Linked DNA regions of Homo sapiens: region 2 is linked to region 1. The links come from fine-mapping of genetic effects on gene expression. A gene starts in region 1. The other region holds a variant in brackets. All regions are shown on one strand. Distances are from middle to middle.

Evidence for each region.
Region 2: its variant is fine-mapped to the expression of GPC6 in aorta (GTEx, PIP above 0.99). The same link has a PIP of 0.9 or more in lung.

The regions. Positions count from the first base shown.
Region 1 is chr13:93,221,471-93,233,019 of GRCh38, forward strand. It overlaps GPC6 (glypican 6), which reads left to right and starts at 5,337. Exons shown (of 9, transcript NM_005708.5): 1 at 5,337-6,146. The coding sequence starts at 5,987. RefSeq lists silencers at 2,421-2,606, 6,826-7,120 and enhancers at 2,573-3,523, 5,930-6,772.
Region 2 is chr13:92,696,995-92,708,543 of GRCh38, forward strand. All of the region lies in intron 7 of GPC5 (glypican 5), which reads left to right. GPC5-AS1 (GPC5 antisense RNA 1) reads right to left here. Exons shown (of 4, transcript NR_046520.1): 3 at 8,967-9,065; 4 at 4,395-4,522. Among named protein-coding and RNA genes, the nearest start is that of GPC5-AS1, 19 kb to the right of the region's middle. The variant G/T (reference allele first, on the strand shown) is at 4,845.

The DNA of each region.
Region 1 (11,549 bases):
CTGCCCCATGGTGTTTGGTTTTCCCCCCAAGAGATCATTAGTAACCCAGTTTGTTCTCAGCTGCCCTAAAGATATAATTTTAATTGGTTTATATTAGCACTAGGTATATGTTTAAGGCTCAATAAATGTTAAATGAACTATTAGTATTTCATTGGATATAAACCATAAGATGGAAATGAAAGATTTTCACCATTTCTGGTCATTATTCACCCAGGTTTACCTTTTCTTTCTCTGTAACTCAGCAACCTTCCCATTATCCAGGCACCTGGCAGAGCTACTGTTGTTAAATTTCTGACAGCTTTTTCATTACAGGCCCTGTTTTTCAAGAGGCAGGTTAACTAAGCGATTTTGATTTGTGCCAAGCTGAGATGTGGAATAGACACTTGAAGTCCATTCTCCTGTTTTCCTAAGATTTTATTTGAAGTTATTTGTCCTACTTTGATCTAAAAAATACTAAGAAAAAACTAAAATTCACCTATTATTTTCATTCATGATTTTTATAACTGAGCAAAAGGATGATAAATTCTGCTGTAGCTCTGCTTTTTATTTTTTTTATAAACCCAAGGCTTTTAAAAAATTAACACAAGACATTTCATACTTCAGAGTTATTATTTGATTCAGAAACATATTAACAGCCAATTGTTTTACTTACATGAGATAGGGTAAGACCTTTTTATTTTGTAAAACATGAACCAAATGCTATAATTTGTATTTATGTTAAACGTGTGACATATTCATGTCAAAACAATATTTTTTGTCTCATAACCAAGGACTCATCTTTACTGTAGAAAACATGAAAAATGCAGATAAGAGAAAAAAAATTTAAAATCAACCAACCCAGTAAGATCATATTGGATTTCATTCTCTTTTTATGTCCACTCATTCTTCCCTGAAGTTTTAGAAACTTCTGGAAAGCATTCCTGACTACCTCTCTGCCCCTTCCACATACAGTTACCACATTCTAATCAGTTTTACCTGGTATTTCCATATTCTTTCCACCTACTTCACACACGATTCCATGTGGTTTAGCATCCACCCAGTTTACTATACTAAAATGTTTCTCTCAAAATTTCCAGTAAGCTTCCTTATCATTGTCCAAGTACCATTATCTCCATCTCTTTCTTGTCCACTGCAATTTGTTTTATGTTTGAAAATCTCCTCACCTGGGTTCCACGATGCTACCTAATGTTTTTGTTCTCTTCTTACCTTTGCAACTATTCACTGTCTCTTGCCTTTAAATTTTCTTATTATTCATTGAGTTTGGTGTATAGGTTAAGTTGCTTTTACTTGTAAACAGTAGAATAACCAACTAACAATGGTGTAAACAACAGGATATTTATTGATTATTTAACAAGAAGTCCAGAAGTTGGAAGTCCTAAGGCTGGTTTGGTGACTCAAATAGGAACTCAAGGTTCTTTGCATCCCTCCATTGTCATTGTCTGTCTTCTAGCAATGTCTTGTCTCTTACGCAAAAGATGGCTGTGTAGCTCTAAGAAGGCAGGAGGCTGAGGCAAAATGGCCCTTCTGCTCCTTTAATCAGGGAAAACACTTTTTTTTTTTTTTTTTTTTTCAGAAATCTCCATAAATCACATTGGCTAGAAATGGGTCTTACACCCACCCCTACACCAGGGAAAAGTGCTAATTGTGATTCATCCCTTGGTGGTGAGCACAATGCCCCCTGACATAATCAGTCTTAGAGAAGCAAAAAAGAAAGGGCGATGGCTGTGGGATATGTGACTGACAGGGGCTGCACGACTCGTCTGTCACCTATGGCTGCTCTTCAAGACTGTGTCTATTTTTCTCTACAACTGAAAGTCTCTGAGGTTCCATTCATGTGATGCCCAAAACGGGTTGTTGTGAAAACCAGCTGGGATGTGAAAGTACTGTATAAACAGGAGTTGTATTGTCTTTTATTAAACGTACCATATTTTCCTAATGAGATGCAATCTTTTTTTTGTCTTGTTTTTGTTGTTGTTTGTTTTGTTTTTTTTGAGACAGAGTCTCACTCTTTCTCCCAGGCTGGAGTGCAGTGGCGTGATCTCTGCTCACTGTTACCTCCACCTCCAGAGTTCAAAGGATTCTCCTGCTTTAGCCTCCCAAGTAGCTGGGACTGCAGGCACATACCATCACACCAGCGAATTTTTTGTATTTTTAGTAGAGAAGGGGTTTCGCCATGTTGGCTAGCCTGGTCTCTAACTCCGAAGCTCAGGCAAGCCACTCTCCTTAGCGTCCCAAAGTGGTAGGATTACAGGCGTGAGCCACCACACCCAGCAGAGACACAATCTTAAAATAAATATTTAGTAATTCTTCTTGTGTATTGAACCAAGCACCAACTCCTGCCAATCCTTTCCTCAGAATCTATCTACATCTTTCCATTTTCCATCGTCCTATTCTAGGTATCCGTTTACCTCATGCTATTTGTTTGCTTTTTTTTTTTTTTTTTTTTTGAGACGGAGTCTCCCTCTGTCACCCAGGCTGGGGTGCAGTGGCGGGATCTCGGCTCACTGCAAGCTCCGCCTCCCGGGTTCTCGCCATTCTCCTGCCTCAGCCTCCTGAGTAGCTGGGACTGCAGTGCCGGCCACCACACCCGTCTAATTTTTTGTATTTTTAGTAGAGACGGGGTTTCACCGTGTTAGCCAGGATAGTCTCGATCTCCTGACCTCGTGATCTGCCCGCCTCGGCCTCCCAAAGTGCTGGGATTACAGGCGTGAGCCACCGCGCCCGGCCTTTTTTTTTTTTTTGAGACGGAGTTTCTTTCTTGTTGCCCAGTCTGGAGTGCAATGGCACGATCTCGCCTCACCGCAACCTCTGCCTCCCAGGTTCAAGTGATTCTCCTGCCTCAACCTCCCGAGGAGCTGAGATTACAGGCACGTGCCAGCACGCCCAGCTAATTTTGTATCTTCAGTAGAGACGGGGTTTCTCCATGTTGGTCAAGCTCGTCTCAAACTCCCGACCTCAGGTGATCTGCCTGCCTCGGCCTTCCAAAGTGCTGGGATTATAGGCATGAGCCACCGTGCCTGGCCTCGTTTGCTTCCTCTTGTATGGCATTTATCCATATTCTTTTTTCCTACTACACACAAGATGAATACTACAGCTAGGATTCCAGCCATTAGCTGACCTTTTTGTCTAAACCAGATGCCTGCTCCTCCATATGACCTCTCTCCTGTCTGGTCAGGCCTCTTCCAGGAACTTCCATAACATTCCATTCTCATTCCAATCCCTTGTCTAGGCTCCTGCTGTGGCTCTCAGTGTTAACTGGAATGTTTGACTTTGTCTCTTACACCACTGCAAACAGTGTGACATTACTCAACAAATGGACCAGGCAGGGTTAAGGTCACCAGTAAAGCAAGTTATCTAATTCTTTGGTCTGACTTGAGTTCACAAACCTACCCTAAACTATTTGACTCTCCTGATGGAATTAAACTAATCTATTTAGTCATTCGTCTCATGTAATATCTTTGCCACAAATCCTAAGATCATTTTATAAGTATAGGGACGGTGTGCAATAGTCTAGTGCTATAAAGTTGTATTGAGTGCTCATTCAATACTTAACAATTAGCTGATCTTCAAATAATTTAAAACCACATATACTATGCTTTTACCCATTCTTCCTTTACCTCCATTTAAAATAATGAATTATCTGCTATACTGAGTCAGGGTAAATTACAATGAGTCCCAGGATAAGGTGGTAGGACAGGAAGTGTGTGTTTTTACCCTCTTCCTCTGGAGTGCATAATGCTTTACTATGATACAAAGAGAAGTTTGAAGGAAGTCACGTTGTCAAATATGACAGAAGTAATAACTTGACTGCAATTCCTGAGCCTATCAACCTCACCGTTTGTCCACAAACATAACCAGAATATATTTTATCTTGATTTCCGACTTGAGGGAAAATAAGTTCAGTGATTTAAGATCTGCCAGTTAGCATAAATATTGTGAAAGCAAAAAACTGTGCTAAAATTTTAAGAGAAAAAAAGTTAAGTGTGTTGCGTTTTCAGAAAGATTTAGCTATGGAGTTTTTTTTTTTGTTTTGTTTTGTTTTTTTTTTTTTTGGTTTTGTTTTGTCTTGACCTATGAGTTTGAAGAAGACAAAGTGGCTCTGTAAATAAGTCGACTTCATTTTTAAAGCGTTTGGAAAGGTTAAATGAGGTTGAATCTTGAGAGTCTTTTTGGTGGTTAGGAGAGGGGGAATTTATTAAAGAGAGGAAGACAATGTACCTAATATGTTGTGATGATAATGACAAACTCAAAGATTTAAACTTCATGAGTCATTCTGGTCATTCATATCATCATCAGGAAAACATCTTCATGTGTAGCTTCATAGGTGAGCTCCACAAAACTGTGCATTACCTTGTAGTAGTTTGTGAATAATGTGCTGACCTATGACACATAGCCACGTAAGTGAATAAACACTATTATTATTATTATTTTGTCTTGGTTTTCATTAAACTATCTTAGTAGTTTCAGGAGCTCTGGGTTTCAACACACACTTCTGCCAGCTGACTTTAGTGCGTCCATTAGCATAACAAAGTCAATTAGGCAAACCTGAATTTTCACTTTTATCCCGTTCACAGAACATCAGTGTAAATGGAGACAGGAAGAAGAAATTGGATTGATTCTCCACTTGAGAATTATGTTAACTTGGAAGAAAATGTTAAGTCTACTATGTGAGGGCATCTAGTGAGAGGGAAGGAATCACCTCCCTTCCCCCATTATGTCCCTTTATGCACCTCTGACCCTTGTGCTCTCCTTTTCTTGTTGCTTCTGTGGTCTGGTTGTTAGCTTTCCCGATCCTCCACACATTAGAAACCTAAGCATAATGATTTCTGATCGAAGGCTATGAGATATTTGAAATAAAAAAAGGGGAAATTGTTGAGTCTAGAACCAAACCTTTAAAAATTAAGAACTACCAGTCTGTAATGTGTGCCTTTAGAAAAAAACAAAGTCAAACAGAAATTAGGCAACTAGTTAGAGCCGTGATTGTGCTCTGCCACCCATGAACTCCCGTCTATGACTATTTCCACTCTGGCTTTGTGTTTCAGTAGGTCAGGGACACATATTAAGAGCAACAATTGGAACTGCGTTATCCTTTACCTCCATAAAAATACAGCTTAATAACATGTTAATGACTTAAAATTACCTTGTCTTTCTAGATTGTTTATTGATGTCATTTCAGATCGGTATAAAGGATGTGAAGTGAATAAGAAAATAGGTACGTTTCTTTTTCTTTTTTTCCCCTTTCTACCGACTAGGAAGAGATCCAGTCCAGGTTTTGCCTTTGACTCGGCCTGTGAATTTCGGCTGTGCAATGTGTAGCACGTTTCTTTCTCCCCCCTCCTTTCTCCTTCCCTCTTGCCTCCAGTGACTGTCTCCAGGATTTCTCTCTTCCTATTTCAGGAGGACTCTCACAGGCTCCCACAGCCTGTGTTAAGCTGAGGTTTCCCCTAGATCTCGTATATCCCCAACACATACCTCCACGCACACACATCCCCAAGAACCTCGAGCTCACACCAACAGACACACGCGCGCATACACACTCGCTCTCGCTTGTCCATCTCCCTCCCGGGGGAGCCGGCGCGCGCTCCCACCTTTGCCGCACACTCCGGCGAGCCGAGCCCGCAGCGCTCCAGGATTCTGCGGCTCGGAACTCGGATTGCAGCTCTGAACCCCCATGGTGGTTTTTTAAACACTTCTTTTCCTTCTCTTCCTCGTTTTGATTGCACCGTTTCCATCTGGGGGCTAGAGGAGCAAGGCAGCAGCCTTCCCAGCCAGCCCTTGTTGGCTTGCCATCGTCCATCTGGCTTATAAAAGTTTGCTGAGCGCAGTCCAGAGGGCTGCGCTGCTCGTCCCCTCGGCTGGCAGAAGGGGGTGACGCTGGGCAGCGGCGAGGAGCGCGCCGCTGCCTCTGGCGGGCTTTCGGCTTGAGGGGCAAGGTGAAGAGCGCACCGGCCGTGGGGTTTACCGAGCTGGATTTGTATGTTGCACCATGCCTTCTTGGATCGGGGCTGTGATTCTTCCCCTCTTGGGGCTGCTGCTCTCCCTCCCCGCCGGGGCGGATGTGAAGGCTCGGAGCTGCGGAGAGGTCCGCCAGGCGTACGGTGCCAAGGGATTCAGCCTGGCGGACATCCCCTACCAGGAGATCGCAGGTAAGCGCGGGCGCGCTGCAGGGGCAGGCTGCAGCCCTCGGCTGCCGCACGTCCCACTGGCCGCCCGGCGTCCCCTTCCTTCCCCCTGTTGCTGAGTTGGTGCTCACTTTCTGCCACCGCTATGGGACTCCGCGTCTCCGTGTTGGGCGGCGGATGCTCCTGCGGCTTCTTCGGCGGGGGAAGGTGTGCGTCTCCGCCGCCTCATTGTGTGCACACGCGGGAGCACCCTGGCTCCCGCCTCCCGCTGCTCTCGCGCCCTTCTACCCCTTAGTTGATGGCTCAGGCCCGGCTGGCCAGGGAGCCCGGGTCACTCCGGGGCGGCTGCAAGGCGCAGACGGAGAGCCGAGCCGGGCGCTCACTCCGCGTTCTGGTTCGGGCAAACTTGGAAGAACTGCGACCGCAGTTTGCCCAGCGCCACAGTCTGAGTGGCGCCTTCTCCACTCCCGCCCTTGCGCCGGCAGGGGCGGTGGAGAGACGCGGAGGGCTCCCCCAGCCCCTCTCTCCCCTATCCGTCCTTCGGGCGACAGAGCGCCCGGCGCTCGGGCCGGGGGCGGGCAAGGCTGGGAGGGACCCTCGCCGGGGACCTGGCCTCTGGACGCCGGCGTTTCAAGGCTGGTTTGGGGACTTCACGGGCTGCCTGTTTCAGATGTGGGGCGGGCTTTCCCGTTAGGGTTCCTCAGTGCTTCCCCAGTTGCTGTTGGCCACTCAGGGCCCGGGGACACCCTGCCACCCGGTCTGGAGCCGGCCTCGTCTGCCAGCGAACAGCCAACTTTAGCGGGTGGCTCAGCTGGGGATTCGGGTCCGGGTTCGGGGGCCCCGTGTCCCCCGCATGCCCGGCCACTGGCATTGCTCCACCAAGAGCTTGAGAGCGCCCACCCTTTCTCTCGGCGCCAGTGTGTGTAGCACTTGGTCTCCGACAACTTGCGCGGCAGTCTGGGTGCTTGTTTTCCGGCTCTTAGCTCCAACCGAATCCGAGCTTCTCTGGGGCTCTGTGAATGAAACGTGTCGGGGAGAGATAATCCTTTGGCTGCTAAAGAACAGAACTGAGAGAGGCCGAGGGAGGCCAGGAGATGCTGCGAGGGCGCGGGCTGCTCAAACCGGGCAGCTGAAGTCCTTAGTGACCTCAGATCGTCAAGTCAAAACGCTGAATTTCCACCAGCCTCTGTCTGCTTTTTGCCAAATAACTGGTGGATGGATGAAAAGCATTTTGCAGATATCTTAGAACATCACAGTTTCGATACGTTGAGGAATTACTATTTTCTTATGATTTTCAAGCTGTAGAAGTGAGGGTTTTTACTTACACTGAAATGAACACATTTAAATAAATTTGAGCATTGGCAAAGGGGGAAAAAAAGAGGCGCAAATTACCACGCTCATTATATAGAAGGAGCTTTTTCAGTTCAGAGCCAGACATTCCCTTTGCTGAGTCTAAGTTAGAATCTGTGGTGAATTATAAGCCTACTTTTCTATCCTTGTTACTTCTTCCTTCTTTTCCAGAACTCCTTAATTTGTTAATCAATGAATAGAGAGCGACTGTCCCCACAGCTCCTTAAGTTTCTTAACTCTCCTTCTCCTTTGTCTACTGTTATTTCATTCTTTTTAATTAATTGATAAGGATCAGCTTCGCTTTTTTTTTTCCCTCCCCAAATCTCAGGGAATTCAACTTTTTAAAAGGTTTATAGTATGGATCACTTCTTCTAGGAACTTTTTCTCCTTTAATCTGGGCTTTTTCAAACGGTATCTTTTAAGCACACAAGATATTTCCCAACATGATTTCAGATAAGATGTCTCAAAGAAGAAAATAGTTAGGTATTTTTAAATTGCTTCGGTATTCTTTAGAGGATAATGGGACTCTCAGGAGACTAGAGTTCATCCTCAGCATCAGGCACATCTCTTTAATATCAAAGTGAAGATTTTCAGTGTAAAACAATTTCTGTAGTCACCATGAATGTTTGTTGAGAACATTCCCAGGGGTTCATGTAAATTCTTCGGTGGATATTTAACTAAAGAGGTTTTTGTTTTTGTTTTTGGTTTCCTCCCCACCTTTTTACAATTACAGTGTTTGCTTATTAGCTATGAATTTCTAAAATGTGTGCACTTTTTTTTTTTTAAACTCACCTACTTTCCATGAGTAAGGGCATACTGTTAACTTTGCTTTAAGCCTTGTGTCCTTTGATGCTGGTAGACATAATCAAGATGCAGGTCACCACAGGGTCAGAGGCACATTTAATAGGAAAATAATGAATTGAAAGATAATTGTGTTTTTTAAGGATATACTTGTTTTTTCAAAATCAACTTTACTTAATGCTACCTATTGCTGTTTTAATAATCACTTAGGAAATATACCCTGTTGTTACAGGAACACACTCTATCTCTCCTCCCTAGTTCTTGATACTGTTTACATTTAATTATCTAGTGTAAGTGGTTATCTTTTCTTAAACTCTTTTTTATCCTTTGCCTTGATTGGGCATCTAATGGTTTGCTTGAAGAATTTCATGTGTCTTCAATCTGCCAGGGCACATAAATTTAAAAGAATTGCTGTTCAGACTTCAGATTCATGACAGCTGTTTCTAATTGAAAGCTATTTGCAGGTAGCTTGCTTAGTGAAATAACTTGAGAAGTAATAAGGACATTATGTTTCATCATGACATTATCAAAGTTTTACTCAGAACTCACAATTGTGAAATAGTGTTGCCCTTTTCTATTCTAGGATAGAATGGAAACCCAACAGATGAGGAAGTATCACAGGTAATATATAAAGTTATGCTTTCAGAGAATGCTTGGGAAGGAGGAGGCCTTCAAGGGGCAGTTTGCACCATCAGTTTTCACTCAGCACTGATTTTAAACCATGGCAAGGAGATCAGATAGACTATTTATCCTTGTTTGAAAAACTTCCAAAGGAGTAGACTCTTGATCCCCTTTCAGCAATCCATTCTAATATTTAGCAATTCTTGTGGTATAGAAATGTTTCCAGATATCTAGCCAAAAGCCTTCACAATATGCTTGCTTATTTTTTCTTGTTCTATCCTCTGGGAAGATACTGAGCAGTGAATCATCAGGTTCTTTGTTAGGAGAGTTACTCTCATCAAAGGTCAGTGTGAAACATTCTAGTCTTTCCTCATTCATCAGAATTATGACCTAAGTTTCCAATCCTCCTCATGTTGGTGGCTCTAAACTTCTAAAGGAACTCTACCACTGAAAATAGCACCTGCTTAAAACTCTGGGAAATTCAGAGAATGTTGTTTCAGGCTTACTCTGCCACTGTTTTATGCCTTGAGTCTTGCTAGGATCATTAATTATAACACTTTGTAGTTAACAGTGACTTATTGGCCTACATGATCATGTTTTCATTACTTATGTAATGTGACATTATTTAACAATCTCTTATATAGAATTTACTATGTGCCCATCACCTACTTAAAAATTATTACCTTTATAATATCACCTTACTGAATTCTTCCAATAACTTAGTAGATACTACACATTAACCCCATTTTATAGATAAAAAGGCTGTGTGACAGGAACTTTAATAAACTTACCTAAGGGTGACTCTACTAGTAAGTAATGAGGCTGCAGTTCAAACCCAGGCACTCTGACTCCAGGGTCTATATACCTAACTTGGCTCACTGCCTTACAGTATTAAACATTCACCATTTATTTTGAATGAATGCATGCAAAATCTATTCTTTCCTCATTTCATATATATATATATACGTATATATATATATACATATATATATATACGTATATATATATATATATACATATATATATATATATGTATATATATATATATATATATATATACGTATATATATATATATAGTCTGGTATTATTAATCACTATATACATATATGTATCCCTTCCAGTTTTGCATGCTAAATACGTTTCTATTTTGTTCCAACGTCTCTAATTCTCAATATCACTTTGACTTTGGATTTTGTATTCTCAGGAATTGGCCATGCTACCACCATTAAATGGTTCATGCGTTTATGCCTTTTTCTGAACGTTTTCTGGCAAGATATAGTTACATAAAACACAGAAACTAAAGTACATGTCTTGGTTTCTTTCAGTATACTAGGCCTATTGAAATATTGGGTTAGTCCAACAAAGCTCATGCTGGAAAGTTATTCATGGGGCTAGAGGGAGTAAGAACATTTATCTCCACAGATTAGAAAAAAAAATGTAACTAGCTCTGTTTTCAGTATTTATTTTGCAACTTTTTCTGTCCCAGGTATTTTGAGAGTTGGGTTACAGCTGGATATTAAAAAAGCACTAAAGTCTTCATCTATTTGATATTAATTTATCAAGTATTTATCTAAAAATCTACAGTTTAAAAAGATTATTTGCTTGTTTCAAAATACATAATGTTTCCTTTTCACTGATCTTTGCCCAGTGGGCGTTTCCTTTCTCTGGAAACCTGTCTTTCTGTCTGCTCCCCCGGCAAACCAACTAATTTAATACATTTACAATTTACACAACTTTTTTTTTTTTTTCCAGTTTCCATGGAGATATCACATTAACTTAAATGGAAAACAGTGTTTGGTAACTCTTACTCTTTAAAGCCACAGTAAATATCGTAGTTTGAGATAAATTGTTTAATTTCTGTTTATCTGCCTGGTTCAAAGATTTCTTATTTCTTTGCCCCCTGTTTAGTTAGCTGATTTCTTTAAAAGTTTTTGGAAGGACAGTGTAAGTCACAAATGAGTGAGGTGAACTTCAATTTTTGTTTTTGTAATGATTCTACAAGTCACTAGATTTCTAAAAGAATCACATTAATTCCAGGTATCAAAGCAATCTAAAAGTTGGGCTATTAGAAGCGTCACTTGTTAAACTCTTGATTTGGGCATTAATTTTAGAGCGATTGTGAGTTATCTTAGCTGATTTAATTAGAGGATAATATGTCATCATTGGGAACAAGAGTTCATTTGAGTTGACTGATATACTTTTTTACATAAAATATCTCTCAACTGCATTGTATCTTAATAATAGCTTGTGAGTAGAAATATAGGCCACTGTCAAAATTGATTTAAAATGTACAGCATTATGTTCTTTAAGTATTATGGCATAAAGATTGTGCCATAAATTATGTAAGAAAGTGACTAGTGTTCTTTTAAAATTATGGATGAAATTTACGAACACTTATAAAACACAAAATTATTGAGTAGTTCTAACCTAAAATGACCTAACTTCAATCACTAGTTTTGTATAGAAATCTGAGTTTAGGGTAAACATTATAATAAATTAATTGCTTTAAAAATGATTTTAATCTTTTGATCTTATATTGAAACCCACAAAAATAACAGTATAAGAACAACCTTTACCCCCACTTAATTCACATCTTTCAAATTACTTCTAGAAAGGCCAGTAAGGTGATTTAGATTTATCTTGCCAGTATAAAC
Region 2 (11,549 bases), 520 kb before region 1:
ATCTGATGGTTGTAGATGTGTGGCATGATTTCTGAGGCCTCTGTTCTGTTCCATTGGTCTATATATCTGTTTTGGTAGCAGTACCATGCTGTTTTGGTTACTGTAGCCTTGTAGCATAGTTTGAAGTCAGGTAGCGTGATGCCTCCAGCTTTGTTCTTTTTGCTTAGGGTTGTCTTGGCTATGTGGGCTCTTTTTTGGTTCCATATGAAATTTAAAGTAATTTTTTCCAATTCTGTGAAGAAAGTCAATGGTAGTTTGATGGGGATAGCATTGAATCTATAAATTAATTTGGGCAGTACAGCCATTTTCACGATATTGATTCTTCCTATCCATGAGCACGGAATGTTTTTCCATTTATCTGTGTCCTCTCTTATTTCCTTGTGCAGTGGTTTGTAGTTCTCCTTGAAGAGGTACTTCACAACCCTTGTAAATTGTATTCCTAGGTATTTTATTCTCTTTTTAGCAATTGTTAATGGGATTTCACTCATGACTTGGCTATTTGTCTGCTCTTAGTGTATAGGAATGCTTGTGATTTTTGCACATTGATTGTCTATCCTGAGACTTTGCTGAAGTTGTTTATCAGCTTAAGGAGATTTTGGGCTGAGACGAAAGGGTTTTCTAAATATACAATCATGTCATCTGCAAACAGAGACAATTTGAGTTCCTCTTTTCCTAATTTGAATACCCTTTATTTATTTCTCTTACCTGATTGCCCTGGCCAGAGCTTCCAACACTATGTTGAATAGGAGTGGTGAGAGAGGGCATCCTTGTCTTGTGCCAGTTTTCAAAGGGAATGCTTCCAGTTTTTGCCCATTCAGTATGATACTGGATGTGGGTTTGTCATAAATAGCTCTTATTATTTTGAGAGACATTCCATCAATACCTAGTTTATTGAGAGTTTTTAGCATGAAAGGCTGTTGAATTTTGTCTAAGGCCTTTACTGTATCTATTGAGATAATCATGTGGTTTTTGTCACTGGTTCTGTTTATGTGATGATGGATTACGTTTATTGATTTGTGTATGTTGAACCAGTCTTGCATCCCAGGGACGAAGCTGACTTGATCATGGTGGATAAGCTTTTTGATGTGCTGCTGGAATTGGCTTGCCAGTATTTTATTGAGGACTTTCACATCGATGTTCATCAGGGATATTGGCCTGAAATTTTCTTTTTTTCTTTTTTTTTAATTATACTTTAAGATTTAGGGTACATGTGCACAACGTGCACGTTAGTTACATATGTATACATGTGCCATGTTGGTGTGCTGCACCCATTAACTCAACATTTAACATTAGGTGTATCTCCTAATGCTATCCCGCCCCTCTCTCCCCACCCCACAACAGGCACTGGTGTGTGATGTTCCCCTTCCTGTGTCCATGTGTTCTCATTGTTCAATTCCCACCTATGAGTGAGAACATGCAGTGTTTGGTTTTTTGTCCTTGCGATAGTTTGCTGAGAATGATGGTTTCCAGCTTCATCCATGTCCCTACAAAGGACATGAACTCATCATTTTTTATGGCTGCATAGTATTCCATGATGTATATGTGCCACATTTTCTTAATCCAGTCTATCATTTTGAACATTCGGGTTGGTTCCAAGTCTTTGCTATTGTGAACAGTGCCGCAATAAACATATGTGTGCATGTGTCTTTATAGCAGCATGATTTATAATCCTTTGGGTTTATACCCAGTAATGGGATTGCTGGGTCAAATGGTATTTCTAGTTCTAGATCCCTGAGGAAGCACCACACCGACTTCCACAATGGTTGAACTAGTTTACAGTCCCACCAACAGTGTAAAAGTGTTCCTGTTTCTCCACATCCTCTCCAGCACCTGTTGTTTCCTGACTTTTTAATGATCGCCATTCTAACTGGTGTGAGATAGTATCTCATTGTGGTTTTGATTTTCTTTTTTATTGTGTCTCTGCCAGGTTTTGGTATCAGGATGATGCTGGTCTCATCAAATGAGTTAGGGATAGCTGTTGTTTAGAATAGTTTCAGAAGAAATGGTACCAGCTCGTTTTTGTACCTCTGGTAGCATTTGGCTGTGAATCCGTCTGGTCCTAGACTTTTTTTTTGGTTGGTAGGCTATTAATTGCTGCCTCAATTTCAGAACTTGTTACTGGTCTATTCAGGGATTCGACTTCTTCCTGGTTTAGTCTTGGGAGGGTGTATATGTCCAGGAACTTATCCATTTCTTCTAGATTTTCTAGTTTATTTGCATAGAAGTGTTTATAGTATTCTATGATGCTAGTTTTTATTTCTGTTGGATTGGTGTTGATATCCCCTTTATCATTTTTTATTCCATCTATTAGATTCTTCTATCTTTTCTTCTTTATAAGTCTGGCTAGTGGTCTATCAATTGTGTTGATCTTTTCAGAAATCCTGTTCCTGGATTCATTGAGTTTTTGAAGGGTTTTTTGTGTCTCTCTCTCTTTCAGTTCTGTTCTGATCTTACTTATTTCTTGACTTCTGCTAGCTTTTGAATTTGTTTGTTCCTGCTTCTCTAGTTCTTTTAAATGTGATGTTAGGGTGGCGATTTTAGATCTTTCCTGCTTTCTCTTGTGGGCATTTAGTACTATAAATTTCCCTCTACATACTGCTTTAAATGTGTCCCAAAGATTGTGGTACGTTGTGTCTTTGTTCTTGTTGGTCTCAAAGAACATCTTTATTTCTGCCTTCATTTCGTTATTTTCCCAGTAGTCATTCAGGAGCAGGTTGTTCAGTTTCCATGTAGTTGTGCAATTTTGAGTGAGTTTCTTAATCCTGAGTTCTAATTTGATTGCACTGTGGTCTGATAGACAGTTTGTTATGATTTCCGTTCTTTTGCATTTGCTGAGAAGTGTTTTACTTCCAATGATGTGGTCAACTTTAGAATAAGTGCAGTGTGGTGCTGAGAAGAATGTATATTCTGTTGATTTGGAGTGGAGAGATCTGTAGATGTCTATTAGGTCCACTTGTTCCAGAGATGAGTTCAAATCCTGGATATCCTTGTTAATATTCTGACTTGTTGATCTGTCTAATATTGACAGTGGTGTCTTAAAGTCTCCCACTATTATTGTGTGGGAGTCTAAGTATCTTTGTAGGTTTCTAAGAACTTGCTTTATGAATCTGGGTGCTCTTGTATTGGGTGCATATATTTTGGATAGTTAATTCTTCTTGTTGCATTGATCTCTTTACCATTATGTAATGCCCTTATTTGTCTCTTTTGAACTTTGTTGGTTTGAAGTCTGTTTTATCAGAGACTGGGATTGCAACCCCTGCATTTTTTTTTTTTTTTTTTTTGGCTTTCCATTTGCTTGGTAAATATTCCTCCATCCCTTTATTTTGAGCCTATGTGTGTCTTTGCACATGAGATGGGTCTCCTGCATACAGCACTCTGATGGGTCTTGATTCTTTATTCAATTTGCCAGTCTGTGTCTTTTAATTGGGGCAATTAGCCCATTTACATTTAAGGTTAATAGTGTTAGGTATGCATTTAATCCTGCCATTATGAAGCCTAGCTGATTATTTTGCCCACTAGTTGATGCAGTTTCTTCATAGCATCAATGTTCTTTACAATTTGGTATGAGTTTTTAACAAATAAATACTGGACTTTTTCAAATGTGTTTCTGCTTCTATTGCAATGCTGCCTAAATTTTCTCTTGAAGTCAAGTCTATGAATGTGTTGAATTAACTTGTTACATTTTCTTATGTTGAACCATCTATTTAGCATACATTTATGACCATAGCTTGTCTCCAGCTTTTCTCTGAGGTTACCCTGCCACATTTGACAGATGTGTTTTCTTGCCTCATGATAGAAAATGAGGAGAAAATTAGGCACTGTTTTGCCCTGATACATACAAAAAAGGGAAAATAGTTTAGCTGCAAAATTTTCCATTCAGATCATTCTCTGTCTTTGGCATCTAGTCTACATCTTCTTCAGGTTACAGGTATCTTTCTTAGGGTTTCTTCTGGGTTTTGTGTTAGTTTCTGATTGTGGTGATGAAATTCACATGATAGACTGTAATATTCTTCCCAATTCTTTGCTGTTTCCCCCAAGAGGTTTACACTTAAGACTTTGACATCATGCTAAATAATTTGACTTGTTTTATGCAATAAAATATGAGTGAATAAACCAAACTGGAATGATGATTAAACATGTGTCTAATTTATTTTTGTCATTTTAGGACACATGACAACATCTTAAATATATTAAAAAATTATTTTTAAAATTTGGATTGATGGCCATAAAAGGAAATAAGTCATACAAAGAAATAACCCTGGATCTAAAATGCTTATTATGTTGTAGTATTCTTCATGAACCATCAAATATTATGTCTCTTTCACCAGACCAACATTAAAATTTGATGTTTTGGCTCTCAATGTGTGGAAATCACCTACACACCTAAACTCACCCACGTTGTAAAATAATTTATTAGCAAGCATTTACAAAATCCAGATATTATGTGGAGTTGCATTATCTATTGAGAATTCAATTTTCAGGGATTTTTCAGGGTCTGAAATGATGCTGAATCTTGAAATATCTGCAACAAAAGGGACATACATGGCAGTGAAGGAGCCCCAACCACCTGCAGGAGTGTATCAATCCAGCTGCATATTGATATGATTAGACATAAGAGCTATTAAGTATCACAGATTTCAATCAGTGGAATAACTGTAAGAAAGGAAGAAGAAATTCTCTTTAGTGCAATATCTATAGAGGCCATTTCTTGTATATTTCACAAATCACAAGTTTCTTCATATTCCTTTATCTCATAATCCACATTCTAGCAATCTATTTTAGAATCGTTGGCGAATAGATGAAAAAGTGATAAATGACTTGGCATACCAGAGACATCTAAAAAT[G/T]GAATTCATTCTGGGAAGAAATACTAGGGAAAATAAAAGCTAATTCCAGTCTCTGAACTCAGAAAAGATCAGGAAATAAAGGCCTCACATGCATTTTAAATGTCAGGGGACAGGATAGGACTTAAATGATAAGCTCTTCCAGAAACCCCTGTCATTTCAAAGATGTAGGTAACTACTTTTCTCCCCTGTTATAGGAGATGGGACGTGCACTCTCCAGAGGAACTGAATGGAAGGGAGAGTAGCTTGCAGAATACCAAGCACTGATCCTCCTGCCTCACAGTGGCATGGTCCTTAGTTACCTCCTTTGCTATATTCTGCCCTTTTATTTAAACTTTTAACAATGAAAATCCATAGAGTTTCATCCACAAGTATCTTATGTTCTCTCTACACTCACATCCTGAATGATCTTTTCCAGTGTGTGGCTTTAAATCCATATGCATGCTGATGATATAGCTCTATGTCTCTGAATTCTTGATTGGTCTATCCAAATCTTTATTCAAACATCTCTACCCAGAATGTCTAAACAGCATCTTAAATTTCCAAAGTGAATTCTTTTCTTCTCCTCTTGCCCCCTCCCCAAAGCTCTGCTTTATTCACCTTCCTTTCAAACTAAGTAATAATTCTGTTCTTCTTGATATTCTGGCCAAAAATCTTGGATGAATCCTTGAGTTACCCCATGATCCGTCAGAAGCAATAGAAATCCATAAGGAAATCCTCTCGATTCTATCTCAAAATGTTTCCAGTATCCAGTCATTTTTCATCACCTCTCCAGCTACCTCCCCAGCCCAAGCCCCCATTTTCTCTTCTGGGTTATTGCAACAGTGTCCTAATGGTTCTTATACTTCGGTCCATCATCGCCTATTCACAACAGGGCAGCCACAGTTATTTTTGTGAATGCATGTCACTTTTCTGCTCAAAACTCCAATGGCTCTCCATCTCATTCAGAGAAAAAGCTAATCGGTGTCTTGCATATGTAACTCTATGTGATCTCCACTCCCTCCTCCCTCCATGACTTCCCCCTTGTTCATTTTGCTCCAGCACCACTGGTCTCCTTGGCTCCCCCAACCCGGCATATTCCACTTCAGATATTCACACTGGCTGCTTGACCTGCCTCTAAAGCTCAGATGGGAATTGTTCAGAGAGACCTACCTATTTTAAAATTCAATTCTTCCCCCACCCTTATACTCCTCATCCCTATACCTGGCATATATATATATTTATTTATTTATTTATTTATTTATTTATTTATTTTAGTAGCACTTACCACCTTCGAATGCACTATGTAATGTAGTTATTTATTTCTACCTTCCTCCAATAATATGTAAGCTCCATGAGCACAGGGACTTTTATCAATTACCAGAACTCACAATAATACCTGACATGCAATAGGGACTGTTTTCAAAAGAATAAATTAATTAAAAATAGAGAATAGGGAAGAATATGTACATGTGTCCCTTGGGGGGCTGGGCTAAGGAATAGGAGAGCTCAATCTTTATCCTTAACTGTAGGAGATATGATAGATAATATCTAATACTAGAAATTCAGAAATAATTATATAAGTACTTTATTTAGAAATAGGGAGATAAACACCTCTCTGGAAAAGCAATATTATATCTGCCTTTTGAAAGTCTAGGGTTTTTTGTCTTTATTTGTCATATAGAACTCTTTGAATCTGTAAACCATTTATTTTAATTACCTGATAAAATTTTTCAGTATAGAAAAGGGTTAATATTATATAAATTCATTATAAATAATTTATTAAGAATTATTAAAATTGATGTATAATTTTTTTATATTTATAAGATGTTATAAGTTTATTTAAAAATTTATATTTATTCATAAAGAATATAAATATTTTAGATATATTTTATTCACAACATTGAGCAGCATGTTACTGTTAATTGGGGGAAGGGTATACAAATCTAAAATGTAGATTTTAATTAACTAGTGTTCTGTTCAGTAAGTTTAAATATAGTCCTGGGAATATCGATTTGTAAATAAAGAAATGAGCAAATCACCTAAAATTTTACACACATGGGAATTCATTTAATATTTAATAGATTTTTCAGAGCTTTAGAGATCCTAGTTTATTCTTTACCCATTATTTTGTTAAATACCGTTGTTCCATGAAAGAAATAAAATGTTTCCATCATAATTCTGGATAAAATTGTATTCTAATATTATCCTCATTGGAAATAAAATATGTTAACTTGGACTATGCAAGTAATTCTGGCTGGATGACACACTGAAGTCATTTCTCTCATTGGCGTTGGAAGTTTACATTTCTAATTACCCTTAAATTGTTGGAGTAAACCAAGAGAACAATGCTTTGCTTAAATTCCAATTTGTAAAATCTTTCCTAAGCTTTTATGTTTCAAAAATAACCCTTTCTCTCCAATGCAACAAACATAAAAATTAATAAAAAATTGCAGCCACAGTTAAGTTTGGTATTATGAAGTGCTGCTTAGACCACTGTGAATGCTGAAGTTGAATGGCAATATGAGAGAATTTCCATGAACAAATATTGACTACTAATGCAGAATAAAGTTTTCTCATTCTCCAACCAAAACAATTAAAAAGGAAAATTATGTTTATTAAAAGCCTATTTATCTCTAGGCTTTTAGCCAAACCCTTTTGAAGATGATTTTCCCAATTGGAAAATTATCAGAAGCAAAATCCTTTCAAGAATACGGGATTTCAAAATTCATCAAATTAAATTATTCTTTATATATGATTTCTTTCTTAAACTCACAAAACCACTAATATGTGAAATATTACAAATGATGACCTATTGGTTATTGTCCTTTGGTTTAAGAAAAAAGGAGGAAATCCACTTATGGAAGAATTTACCTATGCATTTTTTAATACTAAGAAGTCAATTTTGCATCATCGGGCATATGCAGATAATAAGAGTTCTGTATATTTGAATATTTTGCTTAAGAGTATATATATATACATATACACACACACATATATATACTTACATATATATACACACACACTCTTAGTGTGTAAATATATGAGTGTATATATATATACTCAATGTGTGTATATATATGAGTATATATATATACACTTATATGGATATATATATACTTGAATACATGTATGTGTCTAAATACTATGTTCTAAGTAAGATCTTTAATGATCTCGATGTGTAGGGTCTTTGTTAAGAACAGTGCTCATGGGACTGCAAATATGGATGTACTAGAATTAATATTATGGCAAAAAGTTTAGTGATTGTGTTACTCTGATTAAATTGAAAGCATGTGAAATTAAGTGACATATCTCTAGTGGTCATTTTTTTGTCTTGCCAACAAGCTCCACCTAATAATTTAAAACTAACTTCGAGGAATTTTTATTTAGCTATTCATTCAAATAAGTTTTGAATTTAGTGTAGTAAGGTAAATAATTTATTATTTCTAGTGAGGTTCTATATTCCAACTTTGATTTCTATTGACAATTCATTTTACTTCGTTTTTGTCAAGACAGGTTATTATGCAGTTTACCAAGACTAAATAGAATATGAATTTTATTCTGAGTAAGTTTTTATAGGGCAATGTCTACTACAGAAGCACCTAGCTACATATGGCTATAAAAGCAATGAAATGTAGCTATTCCATATTGAGATATACTGTAAGTGTAAAGTATACAGCAGAATTTAAAGACATAATATAGAAAAAATAAGAATGTAAAAATCTCATCAATAATTTCTTTCTATCTTGAAATAATTTTTGTAAATATTGGGTGAAATAAATACATAATGTCATAATTAATCTCAACTACATGTTTTCCTTTTTAATGTTGCTTTTCAAAAATTTAAAATTATATATGTGACTTGCATTCCTGGCTCACAATACGTCTATGTTGGAAAGCAATGTATAAAGTTATTTTTTAAACTTCTATCTTTCTCTTACTAAATAGTATTAAACAGTGAGTTTGCAAGCTTTTAAAAGGCAATAAAGGGCTGGGCACAGTGGCTCACACCTGTAGTCCCAGCAATTTGAGAAGCTGAGGCAGGAGGATTGGTTGAGCTGAGGAGTTTAATACCAGTCTGGGCAATAGAACAAGACCTCATCTCCACCAAAAAAAAAAAAAAAATTGCTTGGTGTTGTGGCATACCTGTGTAATCCCAACTACTGGGGAGGCTGAGGTGGAAGGATCCCTTGAGCCCTGGAGGTTGAGGCTGCAGTCAACCATTATTGTGCCCTGCACTCCAGCCTGTGTCACAAAAAGAAAGACTCTGTTGAGGTACCCAGCCTAGAAGTAGTCCATCAACAAATATTAATATAATAAATAATATACAATTAAATGAACAGAAAAAAATTCCTTTAATATCTCTTTTCCTTTATTGTACAATTGATTCATTTGCCATGTTTGTAGGGAACCATTTTCAAAATGTCATACGTAATCAGTTATGCATAATCCAGAAATTAAAAGTTATAATTCAAATTTTATATGAATTTAATACAAATAAGGCTTAACTTCATTTTCATTCTACCTTATGTGTGATTATATCTAGAATGCTATTAAAATATATTGGTCTGATCATCTGGCTGGAAGTATGTTGTTGACTGGCAAATGGGAGAATTTTCCACCAGAAAAAAAGTTTCCATAAGATAGCACTAGTGTTGGAAAATGAAGGTGAAACAAAGCCTTCAAAGAAGTATAGAGCCAGCTCCCACAGTTAGATTCTACTTTGTCCAAATATGATTTTTCGTCTTACTGCCCTTAGCCATCAAATGGTCTTTTGACAGCCCTTACTCTGCCTGCTCCTGTATATTCTAGTCAAGAGAGTTGAAATGTCCTCTACTTCCAGGATGATATTAGCCTCCCCTGGTAATGGAACACTCTAATATTTTCCGCTAACTAACTAACTTATCAAGACAAATTGAAGCATTCACATAGCCTATTACAAATCTATTTAATTGAACTGTACATACTTAAAGTGATTTGTGTTTCAATGTTACAGAATGAATGTTTGTGTCCCTGCAAAATTCGTATGTTGAAATCCTAATTCCTAATGTGATGTTTCTTAGAGGTGGAGCCCTTCACAGGTAATTAGGATTAGATGTAATTCTAGGGGTGGGGCTCCCATGATTGGGATAATGCCCTTATAAAAAGATGAAAATATGTGAGATCTCTTTCTCTGCATGTACACACCAAGGAAAGGCCATGAGAAGGACACGGCCAGGAAGAAGACCCTCACCAATAACCTGACCATGGTGGCACCCTAATCTTGGATTTCCAGCCTCCAGAACTATATGACATACATGGCTGCTGTTCAAGCAGCCTCCAGAACTATATGACATACATGGCTGCTGTTCAAGCCACCCAGTCTATTTTATTTCATTATAGCAAACTGAATTGACCCATATGTACATTCAGTCTCCTTATTCTACTACCATGCTACAAATTCATATTTGTACATTCCATTGACCAAAGCCCAAGACACAAATAGAAGTCTTTTAGAAGTGGATAATGAAAGCTGAACCTAACAGAGAAGAAATGCACCCTGACTGTCCACCTGTGCCTCTCGTATGATGCAGACTCACCTTTTGAGCCTATACTTATTAGTCAGAATCTATTTCCTCTGCTTGTTGTTTTGTTTCCAACGGCCCTTGACTAGCCTGATGGCCAACAGGACAAAAGTAGCAAGAAAGGCTCACTGAATAGCACAGATTTGCTATGTATCAGTGTAGGAAAAAGCATGTTACTAAGTTTAATTGAGAAACTCAGCCAGTGTTCCCATGTAATCATAGTGAGAGAAACACAAATGAAAGCTCTTCTTTAAAAAAAAAAATGCATGTGTACTAAGAGCTAGACTCCCTTTTCCAAGGAAAGACCAGCCAGGTTGTAATGAAAACACCTTTAATCCTTCTCAGCTTAGGCTACAATCCTACAAAATATACAGTATATCTGCTTGGAAAAAAATAAACTTTTTGTAGCCAGAGGCAAGATCTCATATAAGTTGCAAAGTGATTGGAAGGCTTTTGGCTTGGTTTGGATTTCTGGTCCTTTACCTGAGTTGTTAATTGAATTAGATTTTTGGCAGAGACCATGAGCAAAGAAATGACAATCAGATCCCAGATCTCAAAACTTCATGGGCAAAGATGACCAATTATTGCAAGGAGACACCACCTCAGACTCTAATTAGTTATGGAAGTTTGTGAGCAAGGTAAGGAATAGAGCATTTCCAAAGATGGAATGAAGGCATTATCATGAACATGGTCATGTTCAGTACATATATTTTAAGTGTTTATTTCTGTAGAATCAGCATGAGAAACATATTCTCATGGTTGTTTTATTTTTCAACTAACTTCAAATCCAAAGATATAAGACAAATTTTGAAGAACTTGACCATTAGGTGAATCAAGAGTAAACTATTTGCAATCCATAGCTTTTTCCAAGTCAATAGAAATTTTCCCATGATACTTGGATTTATCAGTGCTCATAGTTTTTGGTACAGCAGTGTACTTTAAGTTATACTCAAAGGTTCCAATGATGATCAGAATTCTTCTCCTTTTTATTTGCCTCTTCTCAACTACATACCCTCTTACTGCCTCAAATAGAGTAACAACTGTACTAGGGTGCTTAAAATATATTTTATGATAGTAATCTTTGGCAATAGAAGTGATTCTCTATTCTACTGCAGATATAAACACCATAAGAAAAGACATACTTCAATGGATAAGTCAAAAGTCT